3 separate regions of the Homo sapiens genome follow, and regions 1 and 2 are each linked to region 3. The links come from fine-mapping of genetic effects on gene expression. A gene starts in region 3. Each other region holds a variant in brackets. All regions are shown on one strand. Distances are between the middles of the regions.

The links.
Region 1: its variant is fine-mapped to the expression of STAC in blood mononuclear cells (TOPMed, PIP 0.91).
Region 2: its variant is fine-mapped to the expression of STAC in fibroblasts (GTEx, PIP 0.95).

The regions. Positions count from the first base shown.
Region 1 is chr3:36,397,594-36,405,768 of GRCh38, forward strand. The region is part of intron 1 of STAC (SH3 and cysteine rich domain); the gene reads left to right. The region is part of intron 2 of LOC124906227 (a long non-coding RNA gene); the gene reads right to left. Among named protein-coding and RNA genes, the nearest start is that of STAC, 21 kb to the left of the region's middle. RefSeq lists an enhancer at 926-1,426. The variant A/T (reference allele first, on the strand shown) is at 4,154.
Region 2 is chr3:36,162,009-36,170,183 of GRCh38, forward strand. It overlaps the pseudogene RFC3P1. Among named protein-coding and RNA genes, the nearest start is that of STAC, 210 kb to the right of the region's middle. The variant T/C (reference allele first, on the strand shown) is at 4,662.
Region 3 is chr3:36,376,544-36,384,718 of GRCh38, forward strand. STAC (SH3 and cysteine rich domain) reads left to right here and starts at 3,961. Exons shown (of 11, transcript NM_003149.3): 1 at 3,961-4,211. The coding sequence starts at 4,101. The region is part of intron 2 of LOC124906227 (a long non-coding RNA gene); the gene reads right to left.

The sequences.
Region 1 (8,175 bases), 21 kb after region 3:
TTCTTCCCATGAATACAAGAAAGAACATGATGTAAAATCAAGAGGCCTCATGTCAGACCACCACTCAGACTACTGAAGCCTCCAAATTGTGCAGATATTTAATCATTGTGAAAAATCTTCCTTCCAGGAGGAATAACTTCAATCCACTTTGGATCACCCAAGTGCTCTTAGAATTTCAAGGATTTTATGAGCTTGTCTGAAAAAGCAATATAAGTTGTTTCATATGTTATTTCTTTGTTCGTTCTTGTGGTTAGGATTATTTTGGCAAAGTTTATTTCATAGATTGCCGATAGGATGACTTTTGCATGCAGCAGGCAGCAAAAAAAAAAAAACCTAAGCTCAATTTGTAATACATTATAGTGTTGATGATGGGAGATATTTAAAACTTGTGTCTGAGGAGCCAAGAGCAAAATGCCAAGCCATCTAGCTCCATGGCAGGATCTTTCCTGGCTCTCAATTGGACCTTCACTGGTAAGTTTGTCCATAGCCTGGTTGGACAGCTAAATGAAGAGCCTGAATCTAGCTCTCTGAGCCCGTGCATCTGGTTCCCAGACTCTGGGCAGCAGCTGTGAAACAGAAGGAAGCTCATGAAGAGAGCAGCAATTTGACCTCATCCCCTGATGGTCAGACTAAAATGTTACCTGCCAGTTTATGAGCTTTGTAGTAAGACTATTTTACTGCCATCTATGAAGGTATGTTAAAAAAGAAAGAAAGAAAGAAAGAAAGCAAGAAAGAAAGAAAGAAAGAAAGAAAGAAAGAAAGAAAGAAAGAAAGAAAAGAAAGAGAGAAAGAAAGAAAGAGAGGTAAAGAGAAAGAGAGAGGGAAGGAAGGAAGGAAGGAAGGAAGGAAGGAAGGAAGGAAGGAAGGAAGGAAGGAAGGAAGGAGGGAAGGAAGAAAGGAAGGAGGGAAGGAAGAGAAAAAGAAAGAGAGAGAAAGAAAGAAAGAGAGGTAAAGAGAAAGAGAGAGGGAAGGAAGGAAGGAAGGAAGGAAGGAAGGAAGGAAGGAAGAAAGGAAGGAGGGAAGGAAGAGAAAAAGAGAGAGAAAGAAAGAAAGAAAGAGAAAGAAAGGAAGGAAGGAAGGAAAGAAAGAAAGAAAGAAAAGAAAGAAAGAAAGAAAGAGAGAAAGAAAGAAAAGAGAGAAGGAAGGGAGGGAGGGAAGAAAACAGTCACCCATCAGATCATATCATCTGACTTGAAGGAGCCTCCTTCTGACATACAGGTTGCTGTTGCTGTGGAAGGTATTGAGTTCAGATTTTCTATCATCCCTTATTCCTCACCTCTAGTTGAGGTCTCTAAAAAGCAGAGCCTGAGGTTCAGAAGCATATAATTCATGGAAGGTGTGCTGTCAGGAGAAAACCCTAGGTAGGATACAGCAGGAGAGAGGGCTGAACAAGAATGTGGTCTCACGTGAAGTCTTACCTTGGCCTGACCCACATGGGGTACAGAGTGCACCAGAGTTGCCCCTCCCTTAAGGAAATATGGCAGGACTTTTTTTTTAACTTTGTGTCAGCTAGTCTTTGGCTCTAGAAATGGAAGAGGGAGGGGAGTACAATCTCCCAAAGGGGACAGTTCCCATTAGTTGAGGGTGATTCTCTAAAGGAAGAGAGATCTGCCTGCCAAAGCCACTGGGAGACAGGGCAAGGGCCCCAACAGGGAGGGTCTGGATTGGGCACCCACAGCACCCTCTACAGTGGGTTCCTGTCTGTGCCTCTTTAGCCAGAGCAGTCGTTTCCCTTTTCCATGCTCCAATATTCGGAATTTTATTACAATTTTTGCTTCAAAAGAAGAGTGCTGCATTTGACAATGGGTTGATAGACACCTGACATAAGTCTATAAGGGCTTTTGGCCCTAGGAACTGGGTGGTTACCCCTAGCACGACACTGAGTAACATAGCAGAAAGTGTGAACTATAGATTTTCAGGGAGGGTGTTTCCTCTCAGAAAACACCATTTGGAGGGGAGGGATAGCACTTGGCAAGATTTCATTTGGCCAATTTAAAGTGCTGAGTGATGGAGGACAGGTGGCCCAGCTGCCCTGCTCTCCTAAGACAGCCTTAGTGATCTTGTCCCCTCATATGGCCATCCTTCAATCTAAAATAACTCAATTTATTAAAAAACCATGGCTCTAGGGTAACTTACTCGAGAATCTTGGAAAAATTTCAATTAAATTGACTCATATACATTCAGTTTTTTAAAATGGTCTCCCAACTGACACTGAAGTCATAGATAAATCAAAGCCCAGATCTGGAGTCAACCTGGATTGTGCCTCAAGGTTAAGCCAGCTTTGACCAGCCACTGCTAATTCTACGACTTAGGCAGCCCCAGGCAAAATGGAGGCACTCATGTGCAAGTGCTTTGGAAAACACTGAAGGAAATTAATAAATGGAAAGAAAGGATTAAAGTACTTAAAAGGGGGTGGGTTGATGCCCCGGTCGAAAGAGGTACAAGCAGTAAAGTAATAGTGAGTGACCTGTGGAAGCTTTCCTGCTCAAGACCCAGCACTAAACACTTTGCTTTCAATGTCTCATCCCCTGCGAGTTTCTCAGTTTCACACAGGATAAGTAGTTCGTTGTCAAATTCAGGTCACCTGACTCCCAAACCTGGGCTACTATGTTTCAGATTCAGATAGATAATAGAGAGATAAATGGATAGATACAGAGATAGAAATATATAAATAGACACACAGCACTTGCTGCTCAGCTACTGTCAAATGGTCATTTGTCCACGTGTTATATAACTATTCGAGAGCCTTAATGGAGCATTCTGAATCTCATTTCACTGAAAATATAATGTAAAGGAACATTTGAAATCATCACAGATAACCCCATGATTTTAGGGTTGAGGGAACTGAGGCTCACAGAGCTTGAATTATTCTCGCAATAACACACACATACTACAAGCAAAATCCACAAGACAGAATATTTAGACCTATACGCTGGGTTGGGACATTCTATAATGACCTTCAAGAATGTTATAGAGCAGTTGGCTGCAAACTGAAGTGCATCAGAATCACCTAGAGGGCCAATTGAAACACAGATTATTGGACTTCATCCCCAGAGTTTCTGATCTGGTAGGTACTGGGAGAGAGCTGAGATTTTGCAGTTCTGACAAGTTTCTGCTGATGCTCGTGCTAGTAATACAGAGACCAGACTTTGAGCACCACTGCCATAGAAGTAAATACCTACTCTGAGTGCCTGTGATATCCATCCTATTTGTTTATTGCTTTGACCATAATTACGTGCAAGTGTTCTCTTGACCCAGGCTTGTCTGTAGATATTCCCTTCATATGAAAGGGCTCCGATTATAGCCTCTGTCACTCCATGGATGGCCAGAATTAATTCATGTAGCAAGGAGGAAAGTGCCAGGACCATAATGGGTTAGTCCAACCTTTCATACACCATCCCTTCTTCCCCAGCTGTGGACTTGGTTAAAGAAGGCAAAGGATGTCGGCTTCATATGGCTGAGATTAGCTCACTGAAACCTCCCTATAATGTTTTGTGTTTATTTTGAAACTACTCAGGAGTCAAGCCTCTAAAAATGTACCTATGTTTACATTTTGGAGTCACTTTTTGTGGAAAAGAGTCTCCATTCCTTCTGGAAATAAAGGAACAGATGGTCAGCCAGGTCATGAAAGAGGCAAAGGGAACCTCCCAGCTATGCATTTCCTTGGCAGGGATTTCACATTGAAGGACACACTCTTGTTCATCCACAGCATGAGCCTGCCTTTTCCAGTATATTCTTAGAGGGTTTCTTATGCTCAGTAAAATGCTCATTCTTTTAAAAGTCATTAACAAAAAGGCAATGAGTTGCTTTATTTCCAAAACCTTGCAGAAAGCTACCTTAAGGACCTCGATAGAAAATAACCAGTGTGTCAAATTGGAACTATAGTTAGAAATGCTGCAGGGAACCCAAGGAAGCCCGCACTGGCTGCTTTAGGAACTTGGGTAGAAATCACACTGGAAGAGCTGCAGCCATAGACAGGATTCCCCAGCTGCTGTCCTTGGGCACCTGGGAACCTGCTTCCTCCCTGTCTACTAGCAAGACAGAAATATGAATTGTTTAATGAATTGAATCACAGAAGGCAGAGCCAGATATATAATTTGCGGGGCCCAGTGCAAAGGGAAATCGGAGCTCCTTGCTCAAACATTTTGAAGAA[A/T]TTCAAGACAGCAATAGCAAAAAGCACTAAACCAAACTTGGGGTCCATCTAAGTGCTGGGCCCCATGTACCCACACACAGATCTCATCCACGAAGCAGGTCTGCAGCATGATCATCATGGCACAGTTTGGCAGAACAAGAGAAAGGGAAGGGGAAAGGGGATGGACATTTCACTTGGACTTGCTGTGCAAGGTGATTTAGGTACATCATTTTATTTAGTCTCATTTCACAGATGACAAAACTATAGAGGTGGAGGCTGAGAAAAGTAAAGCCGCTTGCCCATGGTCACATGCCTGATATGTCTACACTGAGATTCATTTCTGACTCTAAGTCCCTGTTTGTTTGTTTGTTTGTTTTTGTTTTAAACTTTTCCACATTCATATTCCTGAAGCAGTATTGGCTTGTAGGAAAAGCTCTTACATATGTTTTTAACTTCTATTCCCTACAAAGCCAAAGAAAGAGTGAATAATGTAATGAATAAGATAATTAGAAAATGGTCCAAATCCTGGTATAATGATAATAATAAAAGTAGAAACAAGACATGGAGGGGAAGAAGAAGGAAGGAAGGGAAAAGGGAAGGGAAGAGCGAGGAAGAAGATGGGGAGAAAGAGGGCGGTGAGGAAGAAGGAAGGTGAGCATGTGCTGGACAGTTACTACATACGATCTTGTATGCATTATTCTGTTTAATCATCACAACAACCCTCTCAAAGAAGCCTTGGTTTTGTGCCCACTCTACAGATGCAGAGCTAGAAGCTTACAGCACTTAGTTAACTTGCTCAATGCTAAAGGCTCAAGATTTCTGTCTAAACAACATCTAACATTAGCCTAGGAAGTCACCCAAAATGGATTTAAGGGCTAGGCAAGGGAACAGAGTCCAAGATAATTCTAGACTTCAAAAGTTGTAAACTGCAAGAAAATAATAATAATAAACAGAAGGCAGCTCTATACAGGAATAATAAGAAGGAGTATAAATGAAAACATTCAAATTCCAGAGTAAAAGCCTCCATACATTGGCATTTGTGGGAGTCTCCATCCTGCCTGCTTGATCCCACCCACGTATCCTAAAGCAAAGTTGGCCTGTCCGTCTTCCCACCTCAGATGGATTCAGGGGAATTATCTACTCAGAGTCTTATCTGCAGAGGAAACTCATTCTAGCTACCCATATGATCAAGCTAGTTATTCACCCTTAAATATGAACAGACAACTAAAGCATAAACCAAAAGGACCACTGTGCACAAACCAAACAGCTAACCCAGAGAAATAAGACGTAACACAAGGATTATGGCTAGCCTTGAAAACTTTCTAATTGATATCTTCAGAGAGATTCAAGAAGTATTGTGACCATTTCAAAGGAACTGTTTTTTATTTCTTTTAAAAAGGTACAATCAATGCCTAGGAATGAATTTTTTGGAAAAATCAGATTTCTGTCTAATTTTTTTGTCAGTTACAATAAGTAATTTAAAAACAATCAATGCAAGGCCTGAAAAATAGAATGAACAATTCTGAAGACTGAATCAGATAAATGAAAGATAAAGTTGGAAAATCTCCCAATACATAGAACAAACGACAGATAATTAATAAAAGAAAGGTCTTGAAATATTGAAAGTTGACACAGGTCAACCAGTCAGTCATCTCCACTGGGAAAAAAACAGTTTGTTTTTTTTTAATTCTCAATTTTCTTCTATTTTTATTTTTAATTATCTCTTCACCTCCATTTTAGTGGAAAATTTTTTAATAGAAAAAAATTTTAAAAATTCAGTAGAAAAAAAGTTATATGTTCAAATTGAAAGGACTCAATAAGGAATGAGCAATGAAAGTAAAATAGAAGTGCCACACAGTAAAAGCAAAAAATGTAAAAATGATATGTGAAAAAATGAAAAATAAAATGGAAAGAATTCTGCATACACAATTAGTAAAATCATGTGACATTTATAAACTACAAAAATAGATAAAATCCTTAATATTTCCAGAAATTAAGAAACAGGTGACCTTATCATGATGAAACTCAGAGGGGCATCAAACTGAGAGTAAAAGTCAAGGGTGCCATGGTTTCAGATTCTGAGCAGAAAGTCTATTCATTCTGGAATCTGGAATCCAATACTGAGTCATTTGAATGACTCTGAAAAAAACAAGTCATCAACATGTCTCCCAAAAGAGCATAGATAGAAATTAAATCCTGGATAAAGCACTAACAAAGCAATTTTGCACAGTGACTCTGACTTGAAAGGTATTTTATATTTTATCTTGTAACACAACTCTGTATGCTACAAGCTCAAAATACAAAACACAAATTCCATTAAATTCCTTTACACCAACAATACCTATGACACACCTATGAATATCTCTAACAAGAAATATGTAGGTCCTATGTGAAAAAACATGCAAGCATTATGGAAAAACAAATAAGGAGATCTAAACAAATGGAAAAACATGACATTTAGATGAGAAGACTCAATATTGTAAAGATGTCAATCACCCTAAATAAATATGTAAGCTCAAGTTGATTCCAATCATATACCAACAAGTCTTTTTTAAAATGCAAATTGACAAATTCAGTCTACCATTCTTCTGAGGAAATTAATGGCAGATTACTTAAACTTTCTAAGGCACATTCTCTTCCCGTGTAGTATTGGGATCATAATGAAACCTATTTCAAAGGGTAATTGTGAGAATTAAATGAGATAATACATGCAAAGCACTTAGCACAATTACCAGCTGATAATAGCACCCACAAATCTTAGTTTACATCATATTATGCTCATGTATATAAATACTCATATGTATGATAATGTTCATGCAGCAGTATTTATAACAGCAAAAATTAGTAAGGCCTCAAATTTCTATCAGTATCATAATTATAATGATTAAGTACAATATACTATATCCCACAGCATGGAAAAATATTATTAAAATTTGTTATGAATATGCCTATAATCTGACATGAACAAAGAAAGTCACAAAACAACATGTGTACACATTCATGTAAAAAATATATAAAAATTGGTAAATAGATGATAGATGTTTTTAAATAAAAGTAAATATATGTTAGTAAGTTCACAGAAATGTTTCTGGAATTATACGCACCAAACTGTTACCAATTGTTTGTGTATAGAATACAAAGATTGATGATATTATAAATTATATAATATACAGCTATTATATATTCTTTATTATAAATGCATCTATTAGGTTGGTGCAAAAGTAATTGTAGTTTTTGTCATCACTTTAAATGGCAAAACCACATTACTTTTGTGCCATCCTAATATATTATCTGAAAAATTTAAAATATCATACGATTCTTGTTTACTTTAAAACTATGAAATAGGAAAGGACAGTGTTTTCAGGTTGTAGTTGAGCTTCAGGAGATCCCTGTGCCAGCAGGGTCGCCCTCAATGAAGAAGGAGGCTTGCACCAAGCTGCTGGCCTCACCTTGGGGCCACCCATGCTTAAACCCGAATGCAAACCCCTCAGCCACCAATTCTCTCTTCAGCTTTATCTCCATTCCTACCTGAGCTTGCTACCCCTGACTTACTGTGCCACACTCCCCAAGTGTTCCAACCCTCCACCATGTGCTCTGAAACCTTGAGCTGTGATAATCATGCTCCCTTGTATTATGAGGGTGTTCACAGCTTCTCTGTCTGATGAGTCACTGAGGCCAGGAGTTCCCGAAGACACACAGCTTCCTGCAGCCCTCCCCAGTGAAAGCTTCTCCCAGCACTGTACCTCCAATTTTATGGTAGGAAGGTGGAGAAGGATCTCCTTCATCATCTAGGGCTGTCGCTTGGCAGTTACTCCATCCCCAGATACACAACTGATCGCTATTTAAAGACCCTGCATGATCTAACCCTTGCCTCCCCGTCAGCTCCATATATGATATAGCTAAATCCCCAGCCACACATGACAGTTCAGCAACTGTGAACTACTGAATCCATCATGTGTTTCTTGCTTCCATTTCTTTGCCCTTCTAACCAGATCTCTTCTTTCTTCTTTTAGAGACAAGAGTTTTGCTCTGTCATCCAGGTT
Region 2 (8,175 bases), 210 kb before region 3:
AAAAGAATTACATTTTATTTTAAAGCTGGATGTGACCATAAAAATCATGCAGGTCTATCTTTTTCATTTCTCCAATGAAGGAAAGGAGGCCAAGACAGTTTTCATAGGGTAAAACATGACTCTTAACACCACCTGCTAAGCTGGCTCAAAGGTGAATTTGAACAATAGCCAGGACAGTTCCTTCTAGGGTTGTACGAGAATCTGAGAATCCTCCATGAAGTCCCTCCAATGGGATAAGGATGTCTTATCTTCACTCCATTGTTGCTGATACTCTGTTCAAGGACCTGGGGTCTCTGAAAACTAACAAATCTGCTGCAACAGAGTTAAGCTCAGCTGTGGAAATCTCTGATTCTGGAGCCTCCAGATCAAGGTAAAGCTTTTGGTGGCACCACAGACTTTCCTGGGTGCAACCAGGAATGGGGCCTAAGTCTTCCCTATACACAGGCTCCCAAACTCTATCCTTCTCACAGATTGAGGGGAAATACGCCATCTCTCTCATGGCCCATGCTGTTTTTCCATTGCATTATCCAATTCTACATATACAATAGGCTTCTGCATGATTTCAGACTTGCACAGATAGGCAGAATGAATAACATTCATCAGCTTCTCACTCACACCATGAAAAAAAAAACATGAAATAGAAAAAAACACAGATCTGACAACCTCCATGAAACAGAAGAGAAAAAATACAGGAAGCACAACACTTATAGCTCTAACTTGGCATGGTTCTCTACAGCAGAAAAGTAAAACCTAATTAATATGTCAGGAAATGATCACATTGCAAGGGCTAATATTATTTCCCATTTAACTTCACATTGAATGTTAAGCTACAATGTGATAAATGCTGTTTATTCAGGCCATCCCTGCAGGTTTCTCCAGGAGCTGTGTGGCGGAAAAGTTTGAGAAGCACTGAAGTAGGCCAACGCCTTCATTTTATAGGTGAGGAAAATAAAGCCCAGATATGCTTTCTGTGGTTGCATATATCACTGATGGCAGATTTAGGTCACAGTTAGGTGGATGGAGGCCTTAGAGTTCGTGGTGAGCTTGGGTAAACCACATCATTTACTTCAATCTATAAAGAAGGCCATAGAGCCCAATATGCTCCTAAACATGAGAGATTCCACCCCGGGCCCCTGATACTCTTGGCTTAGTCCCTGTAGCCACACCATCACCTGTCTCACCAATCCCAATCACACAAAAGGCCAGTCCTGAGAAGCCTCCTCTTGTTAAAAGTGATCACTCATCTTTTCCATGAACCACCAGGACAAGCCCTTTAATTCTTACACCCATCACTATCTAGGTCACTGCTGGTTGTCCAAACAACTCAAGTCATCCATTAGCACTAGGATATTTTCCTCACAGGACTCTGAACGTTCATAACCTAAGCCAAATTTTTACTCTTTACCAAGCTCCCAAGCCTTTCCATTATGCCTTCTGGAACACTTCACGTGGCATTGACAAAATTCCCAACTTCCTCAGCCTCTTTTTTATTGAATTTCCTTCACCTCCAGAGCTCATTGGCACCTGGCCCACCTCAAGGAGATTGTTTCTTTGGTAACCCTCTTAGTGATAGCTGCTTCTTTTGCTCACAACCCAAGTACTGCAGGGCCTGGAAGAGGGTTAGCTGTTCTTAATGCTTATTGCTGGATTATTTATCCTCCCTTTTCACAAACCCCCACAAGGAAAATCTCTTTATTTAAAGAGATCTGATGGCACAGGCCATCAGACCATCCAATCCACCGCCCTTCTTTGTTGATTTTTCCTGATTTCTCATCACTCCCTATTCAGCTTTTAGAAATAGCATACTACCACTATTACTATAACTATTTCTGAGATTTCTATATCCCATTAAAGTGCAAGAAATCCATAAAATAAGAGAGAGAGAATGGGAAAAGTAGAATGGAGGATAAATAAAAGTAGAAAGTAATTTAACTGACATAATAGAGAAGACACAATAACATGTGAGCTGCTGGTGGTGGTTGGGTATGAATTGCCAAAAATAAGCAAGATAACTCTCGCCATAGCCCCATCTCACCCTCAGATACACACATATTTATTACATCAGGTACTTCTGAAGTCAGGAAAGTCAGAGGGAACAGAAAAACAGAAAACGTACTTGAAAGTTTGATTAAGGAGCAGTGAGAAATCTAGATCTCCTTGTCTTTCCTAGAACCCCAAGGACCTGTCCCTCCTCCACTCTGGAAGAAGCCTGGATGTTTACTCTCCCAAGGTCTTAACTGAAAAAGCAATGGGCCTTGAGAATACGAGGTACAAGGAAGGCTGGGGGTGACGTTCCGATACTGAAAATAACGGATTAAGAGAAAATCTGTCTGCTGAAAATTGAGTCCCCAGCTCTCTCTCTCTATTCAAATCCTAAACCCCAAAGTCAGCTTTATAACAGCAAACTTGAATGGGAGGTGAAAGAATCCAAGACTGACAGCAATTGACCTTTGGCAATCCCACAAATAAATGGCCTGGGTTTCCTTCTGATCAATCTACAATGAAGTGTATCAGTTGACAGGCACTACTGCCCCACCACCATCATGACTACCACACCGTATGCCCCACAGACAAAATCACATGGCGAGTTGCCAAATATCAACTTGATGTATGTTCCTAAGAGCCTAGGATGATTAAGCATTTGAGAAAGTATTTAACATGAAGGTCAGAGAAAAAATTCAAAAAACAGAGAAAAAAACAGAAGAAAAAGAGGCAATACTCCGAATAGAAGAAAACATAAAAAGAATTAATATCCATAGGTGATAAAAAGCAAAAATAGTGCTTTGATTATATTGCAAATGGTTGCAATAAAAGGAAGACTATGAGAAAAATAAAGAAATGTTAGAGATAAAAATAGTCCAGGCATGGTGGCTTATGCCTGTAATCCCAGCACTTTGGAAGGTGAAGGTGGGTGGATCACTTGAGCCCAGGAGTTTGAGACCAGACTGGGTGACATGGAGAAACCCTGTCTCTACAAAAAAATACAAAATTAGCCAAGCATGGTGGCATATGCCTGTAGTCCTGGCTATTTGAGAGGCTCAGTTGGGAGGATCACTTGAGCCCAGGAGGTGGAGGTTGCAGTGAACCAAGATTGTGCCACTCCACTCCAACCTGGGCAACATAGCAAGATCCTGTCAAAAAAACAAAAGAAGAAAAAAGATATATTAGAGATAAAAATGATAATAACATAAATTTAAAAATGGCATGGGCATATTTAAAGATAAGTTAAGGAAGCCGAACATAAGAAAAAGTGATTACGTTCTTCTAGTATTTCTATGTCTGTTAAGGATATATAATGATGATTGTATACATACAATGCTATAGCAATAAACCACACACACATACACACACAGAAAGCATATAGTCAACTGAAGAGCAAACTCTGGATAATAATTAAAATTGGAAAATTATTAACTTACTATGCTACTAATCCCATTTACATATCAAAATTTTATTTTTATGGAAATTTTTCTTTCCTTTTTCCAATTTTAGAATAATTTTTCTTTTGTTTTCTCCAATAACTTTAATACAAGTATAATAGGGTACAGTGTACAAGTGTACTTAGCACTTTGTAAATTGCATTTTTCATAGTTCTATGTTGATAGTAGAATGGTTATGGTAATAGCTTTGTAATCTACATGAGTTTTTCAATTTTCCTTTATAAACATGTAATCAAGGCAAAAGATGTTATTTTGCTGAATAATCAATAATAGCAATTCTATAGCTCTGTGCTGTGCACATTGGGTAAATATATACATAAAAACTTATTTTTATGTCAGGTTTCAGTATCTTGTGTCTGCTTGTCTTATTTAAGGGACAGATTTTTTAACTCAAAAACAATGTGAACAAATATTCATTTTTTATAAATATATCGTATTTCACTGTTCTTTACATAGCAGTTAGTTGCATTTTAAAAGAAATCATGAGTATTGCTATTTATTTAATAATACAGTTAACAGAGCTAAGGAGGAAATTACAGCGATAATAAATGTGTTATCAGTGAAATAATTGCTCCATTGTGGCTTCCTCATTAAAGACCATAAGTCAATGAGCTGTGTGAAAGTTTGCCGCTGATTTTTTTCTGGGCACTGTATTTGCATGTTATATAAATGTCCTATTTGTACCATATGATTGCTAGAGACTCAATGAGCCATTTTAATGGCAAACAGTTAACACATTACTTTCTGTCCTTCTGTTTTACTCATGTGGTAATTGTAGAAAAAGTTTAGTTGCTCCAATGTTCTTTTAAATAATTAAATTGCTTGTTGGCTGCATTTTCCCCTTGATATAGTGAATGGTTGAAAATAATTCATCTTGAAATTGAGTAATAACCATGACTGTGTGTTACAGGCACATAACTAGTTTGGATTTTTTGAAAATGCTGTTTCAATTAGATTCAAATGGTAAATGGAGAAGTTTTATCGGCATGAGACAAACATGTTCTACTACAACTTCTTACATTACGTTCTCAAATTTATTTTCTTCTAAGAATACCATTGGTTATTTCAATGCTGAGATTCTTTGTTCAGGTATCGTATTTGAGCCAAAGTTTCTTTTGAGAATCAGCCTCTCATTGGCAAACAAGGCAGATACTGAATAAAGTCCTGGAGGGGAGGGAGGCTGTCTGAGTCACTGCTGCATCACTTCAAGGTTGGGGCTCA[T/C]GGCAGAGGTTTAACAAGTTCCAAGGAAATGACTAAGATTGGTATTCCTGAAACACAGCTTGTGACAGTCCACTGGGGCCCAGGTGGCTCTTCTGAGATGGCCTCATAGATTTAAGTTTTACACGGTCCATCAGAGCAAATAAGAGCGTATTCCTTATGTCTAACACCCTAAAGGATTTTCCTTCTCAAGTCATCCTTTATATATTCATTCTTCTATCAAGTGTCAGTAACTTCTTATTACCACTTTTTTTAACAAAGTATGCTTATATTTGCCTTTTAAATAATTTGTATAAATTCAAGGAGTAAAAAGGCAGTTTTGTTATGTGAACATATTTATAGGTGAAATAGTGTACATTGTACCCATTAAGTAATTTCTCAACCCTCACCTCTCTTCTCTCCTCTCAACCTTCTGAGTCTCCAATGACTATTATTCTACACTCTATGTCCACGTATCACTTTCTTTCTTATTTAAAAAAAACTTGTATTTTAGGTCTAGGGATATATGAGCAGGTTTGCTATATAGGTAAACTCGCATCATGGGTAGGGGGTATTGTTGTACAGATTATTTCGTTACCCAGGTAGTAAGCCTGGTACCCAATAGTTATTTTTTCTGATCCTCTCCCTCCTCCCATTCTTCACCCTCAACTAGGCCACTTTCTTTATATCTGGAATTCTTCTTGGGATCATAGGAAGATTAAACTCATTCATTCATCTACACATTCATTCAAAATTATTATTGAGTGCCCACTGTGCCAGGGACTATTCTAGGAGCTCAAAATTTGTTAGTAAACAAAGCCCCCTCACCAACCCATCCTGGTGCTTACATTGTGGGACCCAAGACAAGAGTACAAATGAATACAATTTACCCTATGCCTAGATATTTAAAAGCCATTCATCAAGTTAACAAATGACTGAATAAAATGCATTTTCTCTTCCTACCCTAAAAAATATGCCTTTATGACTTTCAAGTTCAAGTTTAGAATTCTCAAACCCCATGGAATTTCCCACTAGAACATAAGGGTCTAATGAGGAGAGCCAGTCTTCAGTCCCTGGCTCCCAGCTGAGGCCTGGGTCTCCCTCCTCTCACTCTCTTCTCCCTTCTGCCCTGCACAGGTCTTCCTGCATGTTTGTGTGAACACCTCTAACCCTGTCCAAGCTCTGTTTACACTTTCTGAGGACAACTCATGAGTATAGGGATGAACTCAGAAGGAGACCCATGGAGACCCTGGAAGCAAGCTCAGGCTCACTTGAGAAAGGAATTCCAAGGTCCTCAGTATTCATAGTATGGACTATAAAAAGGGCTAAGCTCTCTGGGTGGACAGATCCTTCCTTTACTCCACCAGGGACCAGCATTCCAGGTCTTCTCCTGTAACTACAGCACTGTAAAGCCTGACTGGATAAATCTTAGAGGTAGACCAAGTAATAAAGAAAAGTTCGCCTAGCCTAGGGGATTTTCTTTTTTTTTTTTATTTTATTATTATTATACTTTAAGTTTTAGGGTACAGGTGCACAATGTGCAGGTTAGTTACATATGTATACATGTGCCATGCTGGTGCGCTGCACCCATTAACTCATCATTTAGCATTAGGTATATCTCCTAATGCTGTCCCTCCCCCTTCCCCCCACCCCACAACAGTCCCCAGAGTGTGATGTTCCCCTTCCTGTGTCCAGGTGTTCTCATTGTTCAATTCCCACCTATGAGTGAGAATATGCGGTGTTTGGTTTTTTGTTCTTATGATAGTTTACTGAGAATGATGATTTCCAATTTCATCCATGTCCCTACAAAGGACATGAACTCATCATTTTTTATGGCTGCATAGTATTCCATGGTGTATATGTGCCACATTTTCTTAATCCAGTCTATCATTGTTGGACATTTGGGTTGGTTCCAAGTCTTTGCTATTGTGAATAGTGCCGCAATAAACATACGTGTGCATGCGTCTTTATAGCAGCATGATTTATAATCCTTTGGGTATATACCCAGTAATGGGATGGCTGGGTCAAATGGTATTTCTAGTTCTAGATCCTTGAGGAATCGCCACACTGACTTCCACAATGGTTGAACTAGTTTACAGTCCCACCAACAGTGTAAAAGTGTTCCTATTTCTCCACATCCTCTCCAGCACCTGTTGTTTCCTGACTTTTTAATGATTGCCATTCTAACTGGTGTGAGATGGTATCTCATTGTGGTTTTGATTTGCATTTCTCTGATGGCCAGTGATGATGAGCAGTTTTTCATGTGTCTGTTGGCTGCATAAATGTCTTCTTTTGAGAAGTGTCTGTCCATATCCTTCACCCACTTTTCGATGGGGTTGTTTGTTTTTTTCTTGTAAATTTGTTTGAGTTCATTGTAGATTCTGGATATTAGCCCTTTGTCAGATGAGTAGGTTGCGAAAATTTTCTCCCATTCTGTAGGTTGCCTGTTCACTCTGATGGTAGTTCTTTTGCTGTGCAGAAGCTCTTTAGTTTAATTAGATCCCATTTGTCAATTTTGGCTTTTGTTGCCATTGCTTTTGGTGTTTTGGACATGAAGTCCTTGCCCATGCCTATGTCCTGAATGGTAATGCCTAGGTTTTCTTCTAGAGTTTTTATGGTTTTAGGTCTAATGTTTAAGTCTTTAATCCATCTTGAATTAATTTTTGTATAAGGTGTAAGGAAGGGATCCAGTTTCAGCTTTCTACATATGGCTAGCCAGTTTTCCCAGCACCATTTATTAAATAGGGAATCCTTTCCCCATTGCTTGTTTTTCTCAGGTTTCTCTAGGGAATTTTTCTTTACCAATCTTGCAGATTTTGCCTTTTCTACACTGCCAGTGAAACCATCTGAACAGAAAGTTTTCTTTTTCAGGACTTTCTGATTTTTCTCTTTACTAGTAATGCAATTTCTTCAATAGAAATGGTTTAATATATAAGTTACACCCACATATACTTATTAATTATATATTATATATATATTCTCAGTGAGTTCAGCAGTTTGTGGCTTTTAAGGAATCTCTATTTCATCTAAATTGTCAAATTTATATGATTAGACTTATTTATAATATTTTCTTATCAACCTTTTAATGTCCATGAGGTCTCTAGTGATATCCTACTTCACACATAAGCAGGGCTTTTGTGAGGTTTCTGCAGGACTTTTCTGCAAGTCTATGAGTCAGTTGTGAAGGAAGATTCAGATCTTCCTTGTTGTACACAGTAAATAACACATGGTAAATATCTCCAATGCTGGGAGCAGGCACACCAACTGCCAAGCACCTACTACAAATAGGTAGTATCACATTAGATGTAGAACTGTGGCACAAGATCAATCTGTAGGTGGACATATACTTTCCCATGGTTCTTTACAAGGCATGTTGAGCATCTTTGATGAGTTTGTCAACTTCTGTCAATAATACCATTTTAAAATATCTGACAGTTTGTTTCAAGTTGCTGTGACTGAGCCACTGTTTTCAACATCTTCTGAATTACTACCTCATCAATATTTCCAGCATCACTGGGATTAACTTCAAGGTGGTAAT
Region 3 (8,175 bases):
AAAATTAGCTGGGCTTGGTGGCACATGCCTGTAGTCCCAGCTACTCGGGAGGCTGAGGTAGGAGAATCACTTGAACCTGGGAGGGAGAGGTTGCAGTGAGCCGAGATCGCGCCACTGCACTCCAGCCTAGGTGACAGAGCAAGACTCCGTCTCAAAATAAAATAAAATAAAATAAAAAATAAAAAAAAGTGGATGCCTCTTGCTTACATTTGTCTAGACTTCTTGGCTATCATCTCCAAAGTGTAGAGATGCTCATTATTTACTTTTAAGACAAAAGAATGGAATGGACCACTCTTCATTATTTGGGAACTTGCCCTGTGCCTTCTATTATGCCTCTGGCTCTCAATTTGCATTGCTCCTAATCTTTAAGGCCTGCTGCCTTTTCAGGACATCCGGGTTCTGCTGTTGCCTAGGTGGCAGCAAACCAGAGCGGCCAAAACTTGGCCCAGGAGCAGGATATAACTGAGTCCTTCCTAAACTGTAGAACCTAGGATAATTTTCTTTATCTTGCTAAGGTTTCATAGGGATTAAATGAAAGAACAAATATACAATGTCTATGATGTATTAGAAACCCAATACATGTTAGCTATTATTGTTATCAGCAACCTACGCCTTTCTCGTATACTGTGTTATATTGTGTATCCATCATGACTCTGATGCATCACGCATGGAGAGCCATCCCTTCCTTGAGATCCTCTCCTTTATCCTCAACAGTTCTCCATATTATCTTCCCTCTTCTTTTTTCTTGTTGTTCTTTTCTGTACCCTTCATAAGTATATCTGTTCTATTTAAGAAGTCTTACTAGTATCTTTTTACCAAATGGCTCTATAAGAAGCCAAGGTCCATAGGATGAAATCCAGTCTCTTTATACAAACTCAGAACAAAGAAATGAGAGAAGGTTAGCAGCATTACACAGTCTTCTGCTTAACGGTGTTTACTGTGAAAGGCCCTTGGATGCAATCAGGAGGAGGCCTTTGCCCTCTTTACAAATTAATGAACAAGTAAATGAACCAGAAGTGGGAGCTTCCAGTTCGAGTTTGTGCAGATAAATTTCTGTACACCTCACACTTCTGCTGGCTTGATATTTACCCAGAAACCAGAGTGAAATAGACCATGAAGGGGATCTACAAAAATCACAAAGCTACAGACTTGAGACTTAGAATAATTATTCACAACCTTTTTTCCTCAGGCTTTACCAGACTGCAGTAGAAATGAGAAATCTTGACAACCATAGCTAAAATGTCATAAAGCTTCTAAGGCAGAATTTCCAGTCTTCTGTGAGGTCTCACCTAAGCATTCCTGGGTGTCAGATGGGGTATCTCACACATAGCCATGAAAATGTACACTTCTGCTCAGGGATATCAATGCTTCATGAGGGGTACTCTGGGGATCACTTTGCTGGTCTACCATCTACTGACTCAAAGCACTGACAAATCCCATTGTTTTACAGAAGCATTCAGAGTCTTCTTCCATTCAGTTTGTGGAGGACACATGCAATAATTAATGCCTAGACCATTTCTAGAGCTCAGGGGCTACAAGGGTAGCCTCTTTTCACCACCTTGTTAACAAGCATTATACCAGGAGCTAGAGAAACAAGATGAACATGGCATTGCCCCTGCCCTAGGGGAGATCATAGCCCAACAGAAGAGCAGGCAACCTTGTCATTGATTACTTAGGAAAGGAAGTCATGGGAACATGGCATTGATTTGGGAATCTAAATCAGATAAATGGGTCAAGGAAGGAGATGTCAAGAGTAGTAAATACTTGGATATGTGATTTGAAGAATAAGATAAGTTAGCTAGATAACAAAAGATCGGATAGAAAATAATGTGAAACTAACACATAAACAAAGGCGTGATTTAGTTTGGGACACCATGGCTAATTCCTATGGTAGGTATTATTTATCAGACTAAGGATTTCTGCTGCTGGATCAGGGTGGGGTGGAAAGGAAGGAGGTACTAGCTTCTCTAAATTTCCTTCAAGGGACAACATTTAAACATATACTATTGGCTAATACTGTTGCTAACTTGAGCTAAGCACTTACTAAAAGTAAGGATGACATCTTCAATTCTTAAAAAAAGAAAATCCAAAAGAAAAAAAGGATGAAAAATTTATTGTTCTAAGCCATGACATGCTTGCTCACCAAGACTGGAATTGCCAGTAGACCCTGGGAGTTTTGTTTCCTAAGAAAACCCTCGTCTGGCCCCATGCTAGCTCAGGCTTCATTTGTACACACTCATCAAAGTCTTGTACTTTCCCTTATCATAGTTTTTTTTTAAATGTGTGTGTGATTTAATTAATTGCTGTCTCTCCCACTAGACTTAAATTCCAGGAAAACAGACTTAATCTGTGTTTTCTCTCTGCTGTATCATTAGTTTCTGGCACAATTCTGATACAGAATAGATGCTTGATAAAAATGTGTTGATATGGCTGCTCCTGTCATTGTGTTTGTGACTTTGGCTACTAGAATTCTGTCTCTATCGAACACTCAGGCATTGTGTTGTGAGAAGGAAAAAGCTGAAGCCATTTGGGCTAGCCAATCTGGCCCCGTACTGAGGGTCACCAGAAAATTTAGAGCATTTTGAAAGCTAAATGCTGAGTAAGAGGCTGACACATTGAACAGTAGCTTTCAATTGACATCTGGGATGGAAAGAGTAAGAGCAAGTTTATTCTAAAAGACATGAGCTAGGGCATGGATGCAGGACCAAACACATAATTTGCAGGGTCAAGTACAAAATGAAAATGTGATCTCTTGTTAAATATTTTTACCGAATTTCAAGATGGCAGCATCAGCGCGGGGCCCTGTGTGACTGCACAGGTTGCACATCCATGAAGCTGTTCTTGCAAACATCTACAGCTAATTTTAAAAATCTGAACAGAAGTTTGCAATTTTGTTTTAAAAAATTGAGGGTATTTTGTATTAATGGGGGAAAAGAGGCTTTTAAATATCTAGGTGTGTTTCTTTTCCCTGCACACTGAGGTTGTCTTCAAAAGAAACTGGACCCTCTGTATCTTTATTCAGTGGGGCTATTCCTATGTTTCCAAAAGATTTAGTAAGGCAGGCTGGTTTGCCCCTCTGTGAACAGTCCTCAACTCTTGCTATACTGCAACATCCAATTGCTCTTCAGCCAAGACCTGGCCTAGATTTGAGGCTCCACAGTCGGAAATGCATGGATTTTGAAGCCCAAATGTGTTCGAATTCCAGTTTCACCAATTATAGTTTAGTGACTTAAAGCAAATTACTCAGTCTTCCTACAGCCTCAACTTCCTCATCTATAAAATGGAAGTGATAATCCCTAGACGCATAGAGTAGCTGGGAGGATTAAATAAGGTAAAAAGAAAGGGTTTAGTACAATAAGTGCACAACAAACGAGGAACAGGTGTCCATATACACACTGCATTATCTCTCTGCTTTAGATCAAAGCTGAATGGAGAAAACGCAGTGCCCGTGAGTCAGGGGACCCCCACTCCGACCCCTGCTCTCTGTCACTGAACCCTATAAATAGCTTAGCTAAGTCACTGTCTCAGTCACTATTCGTTGGGGTGAGGAATGAGGGAGTTGTTGCAAGTGGCTCTTTCTGGCTATATCATTCACAGATTTTCTATTCTTTGGGGTTTGGGTCTGAATTTTCAGCATCCTCTCTGAAGAATCACCCCCACCCAGTGCCGGCGTGCGCCCAGCCTTCCCCCAGCCCTTTCCAGGGCGCTGCCCCCTGCCTGCCCTCACTACTCCAGGCGCTGGCCGCGCAGCCCCGCCCTGGAGCTGCCTCCCCGCCTCCTTCCTCCTCCTGCGGGCGAGCAGAAGCCCGCTCGCCCGCTGCCGAGTGGCAGTCACGACTGTGAGGTCGCCGGCGAGGTGGCCGCGGGCGCGGCGGGGCGGGGCAGGGCGCACTCTCCTCCACGCCCGCGGAAGTGCCGGGGAGGTGGGCAGGGCGGGGAGGGAGAGGGAGCGAGGCTGGAGGAGGGCACGTCGGCGCCTCGGCGAGGATGGGAGTCCCCAGGACCCGGAGCTGAGCAGCCTGGCGCGCGGCGGGCAGGGCGCGCAGGACAGAAGCCTCGCTGTTCCTCCGGGAGCCCAACACCGTTCCCGCGCGGCCACGATGATCCCTCCGAGCAGCCCCCGCGAGGACGGCGTGGACGGGCTGCCCAAGGAGGCGGTGGGCGCCGAGCAACCGCCCTCTCCTGCATCCACCAGCAGCCAGGAATCCAAGGTACCGAGCACGCTTGCCCCCAAGAGAACACAAACTCACTCTCCTCTCCTGTCGGTCCAGCTTTGTCTCTCCTCCTATCTAGCACGGGCGTGGGGGTCTGAGACTTGCTAGTTAGCCCAGGGCTGTAGGACTTGAACGTCCGGTAGGACCCGCTGCTCACGATGCTGGACCACGTCCCTGTGGACCCAGCCTTCCCGCCCACACATTCACACACGCAATTCATGGTGGCTCCGGGTTCAGAGATCGATTTCTTGCGGGGTGGTAGCTTGGTTTTTTTTGTGCTTTGAACCTGCTTGTGTCCAAAGCACGTGTAGGTAGGTATTAGGTGGCTTCTGAAGGCTGAGGGATGGAGACAGCCGAGGGATACTCTTCCAGAAAAGCTTGAGTACTGGGCCAGAAAAGCATGTATGTATCCCAAGGGTCTCAGAGACCTTTTGCTTAACAGGGATCACCCCTACCTTCAGATACTACTCACTAAAAAAGAAAAAGAAAAAGAAAGGGTTTGCCTGCGTTTGTCTGAAAGTTGATGTTCCTCTTGTGAAAGTTAATACTCTAAGAACCTATACTTGCTTTTATGAAAGTTACACTAACACGTATACAAAAAACCAAGCCCGCAGCAGTTCTCCTGTCACTGTTACACTTCCTCTGAAACTCCCGTGGGTGCCAGGCACATGTTTGAAAATCTTGGAAGAGGATAGAGTAAAATGTGGCTGCTAGCAGTGCAATGCCAAATGGCAACTCAGCTGGTGGTGGAAATCCTAAGATGGAGTTTGTAGTTATGTGGATTCTTTTAAGTGTAGAGCTCCTGGCTCTTTATTCTGATTTCATTGTGCGATCCCCAGGCATTTGGGGAATGTGAGGCAGTCCGTGTATACCAGCAAAGGAAAGGGGTTGCCAGTTTATAGGATAGGGACAGGCCAGATGGGGCAAGGAAGACTGCGATCCTGTCTCTCTTCACATGCATCCCTGGAAGCCATTGATATGATCAGGAGGATGAAAATCACAGCCTGAGTGGCTCTGGGGATTTGGTGTGATACTGGGCACTGTACATTTCCCAGCCCCCTGAAGTTAACCATCAATGATGGTAATCTAAGCCCGAAAGCTTTACATCTTATTTATTTTTATTTTTTTCCTGTTACTTACTGGCTGCCAGACCTGGGGTATGTGTGTCAACTTTTCTAAAACTCGGTTGGAAATGAGGGAAAAAGCCCCAACTTCCAGAGACATTGTGAGGAGTACATGAGAGGCCCTAATGTCCACCTGGTATACTGTAAGGACTCAATCATGTTTATCCTTTTCCTTCCTGAGATAAAGAGATGGAATCTATCTCATCTCAAATGATCCACTCCAAAGCAATCTGATAACCCATACACATGCACTACCTCTCCTCAGTCAAAAAGTTTCTGGGTATCATTGCCTCCCATTGAACATCAGTCCCCAGAGTGATATAGGTTAGTGGCCATTTTAGAGGAAAGCTAGAATTCTATAAATGAATGTAGCTGAACTCAAGAGTAAAACTAGTATTGAACTTTTTGAATTGGCCTGTTGCTCTGCAGTAGGCGTGTTCTGGAAAGGGCTTAGCATTTGGGCAAACAGTGGCATGGTTCAAATGCATTATATGGATTTGCTATTTATAGATGTCCTAATGGAAATTATTTGGCAGAGCAAAAGCCACATATGTAATGCCCATAATTATCCACCAATTTATCTGGCTTATGGTTTTGTACAAATTAGTTTTTCTCAAAGTGGTCTATACACCGGATGTGTGTTTCTACATTCCTAAATTTGATGTCATGGCCTCAGTAAGCTTAATTAGTGGAGATGAACTATGGCAGCCCATGAACCCTAGGAAATTGAATGCAATATTGTATGCCTACATGTGAATTTTTCTTGGCATAGCATTCATGATATTCTCAAAGTGATCCATGCCCCTTAAAAAAGGCTAAACTGCTAGTAGGGAGGAACGTGTGGTAAGGTAAGGGAGTAGGATGGCATGACACTGGAGGAGAGGAAGGCTCAATTCATTCTATTCTAGGAAGGCCACATGTTAAAGCTTACTGGCGTTTACAAGGATCTTTGACCCTGAGCATGAGAGCTTGGTGAGGAAAATGTGAACAAGACAGTAATATGCATTCCATCTTACTCTTCCATGAAGTGGTCTTGTTTGTAAAATATCTTGTGGGACAAACATGGTTCAGGCCCCCTTGGCATTAAACTCTCTCAAGGAAGACTTAAAGTTACTTTTTTTAAAGAGTTAGGTTTTTTTGTCTTATTATAAGAGTAACAAATACTCTTTGTAGATATTTGAACAGTCCAGACATAAATGATGAAAAGAAAAATAAATTAGCTCTTGGTTTACCATCCAGAAGCATCTACTAATAAAACTTTGATCTATATCTCATGTCTTTTTAAATCTGTTTATATATTTACATAGTTGAGCGAGAACAATAGTGAGCATCTACTGAATGTTTACTGTAAGTCAGATACAACCTTAATCTTCACAATAGAAGATTCTGTTAATATTTCTATTTTATGGATGGGGAAGTGGAAGCCAAGAAAGGTTAGATCATTTTCACTGTGAAAATTTATTATGGAAAATTTTAATATACACAAAAGTAGAGAAAACAGTATAAAGAACTGTCATGGACCTAATCATGTGGCTTCACAATTAATTCATGGACAGTATTGTTTTATGTATTACCACCACCACCACCACCCTACACATACTGGATCATTTTAAAGCAAATTCCAGACATGAAATAACTTCACCCGTAAATATGCTATCAGGTTACATCTCTCAAGGATAAGGGTTATTTTCATTTTATTTTCATAAACATGACTATAATCCCAATTAGCACATATTTCAGGTGTTTTAAGCTAAGGGCCACTATATTCTTTAGAAGCCCACAAATAGTCTTTGGAAAATCTGTGAACAACCCGAACCAGCATTCAAAGTTGTCCATGTACATGCATATATGCATCATCTAGGGAAAGAATTTATAGCTTATCTCAGGTTCACAAAGGGTCTATAGCTTCAAAGGTTATCTTAATGTCCTTTTTCTCTTTCTTGAGGAAATTGAGGCCCAAAAAGGGGCAGTGACTTGCCTGAGATCACACAGATAGTTACTGGCAATACCCTTACCTACAAACCCCGTCTTGGACTTTGGTATCCCAGTACAGTTTCCTCAGAGCAAATTTCTGTAAGCACAAGTCATAATATAGTTTAATGTAATTGTGGGTTTTCTTCTTTATGAAATTAGTTGAGTTGAATAAGTTTGAAAGCCACTGATGTATCATACCCTTCTATCTTCCCACTAACTATTTCAGAAAGATGACAGCCTAATTTATTTTTTAAGGGCTTGACAGAGACCATTGAATATAAACAAAAATTTCATGTCCCATTATCCCTTATTTCAATGAATATCTTTTCTCCTACTGACTTATTGACAACATAGAAAGCTTGCTAGTGTCTAATGTGAAGGTTTGCTATAAATCTCTTTGTCATCACTTATATGACACAAGGTCACATTTTGATGATATTGAGGAATCACACCTCAATATCATCAATATCAAAGGTGAGATTGACACACCTCTGTGAACATGCCTAATACCTCAAAGCCTCAGCTTCCTCATGGGGATGCTGATGGGGCTGCTACTACCCAATTGGTGTGCTTTTTGTAAGGCCTAAGAATATGTAATACACCTAATATGTTTGTTATAAGCATACACAAACATAAACCATTATTTATTTTCTCTATTTGTTTCAAATCAGATGACTGCTACCACCAGCCAACCCCAAATGTCATCATTGGAATAATTTCAATAACCACAACTGACATTACCATAATGTAACTGAGTTTACCTCTTTGGGCTTTTAGTTATGCTAATTGATTACAATGAGACTTCACTTCAGCTATTTTGCATCCCCAAGAAGATAAGACATAGACTCACCAGCATGTGATTT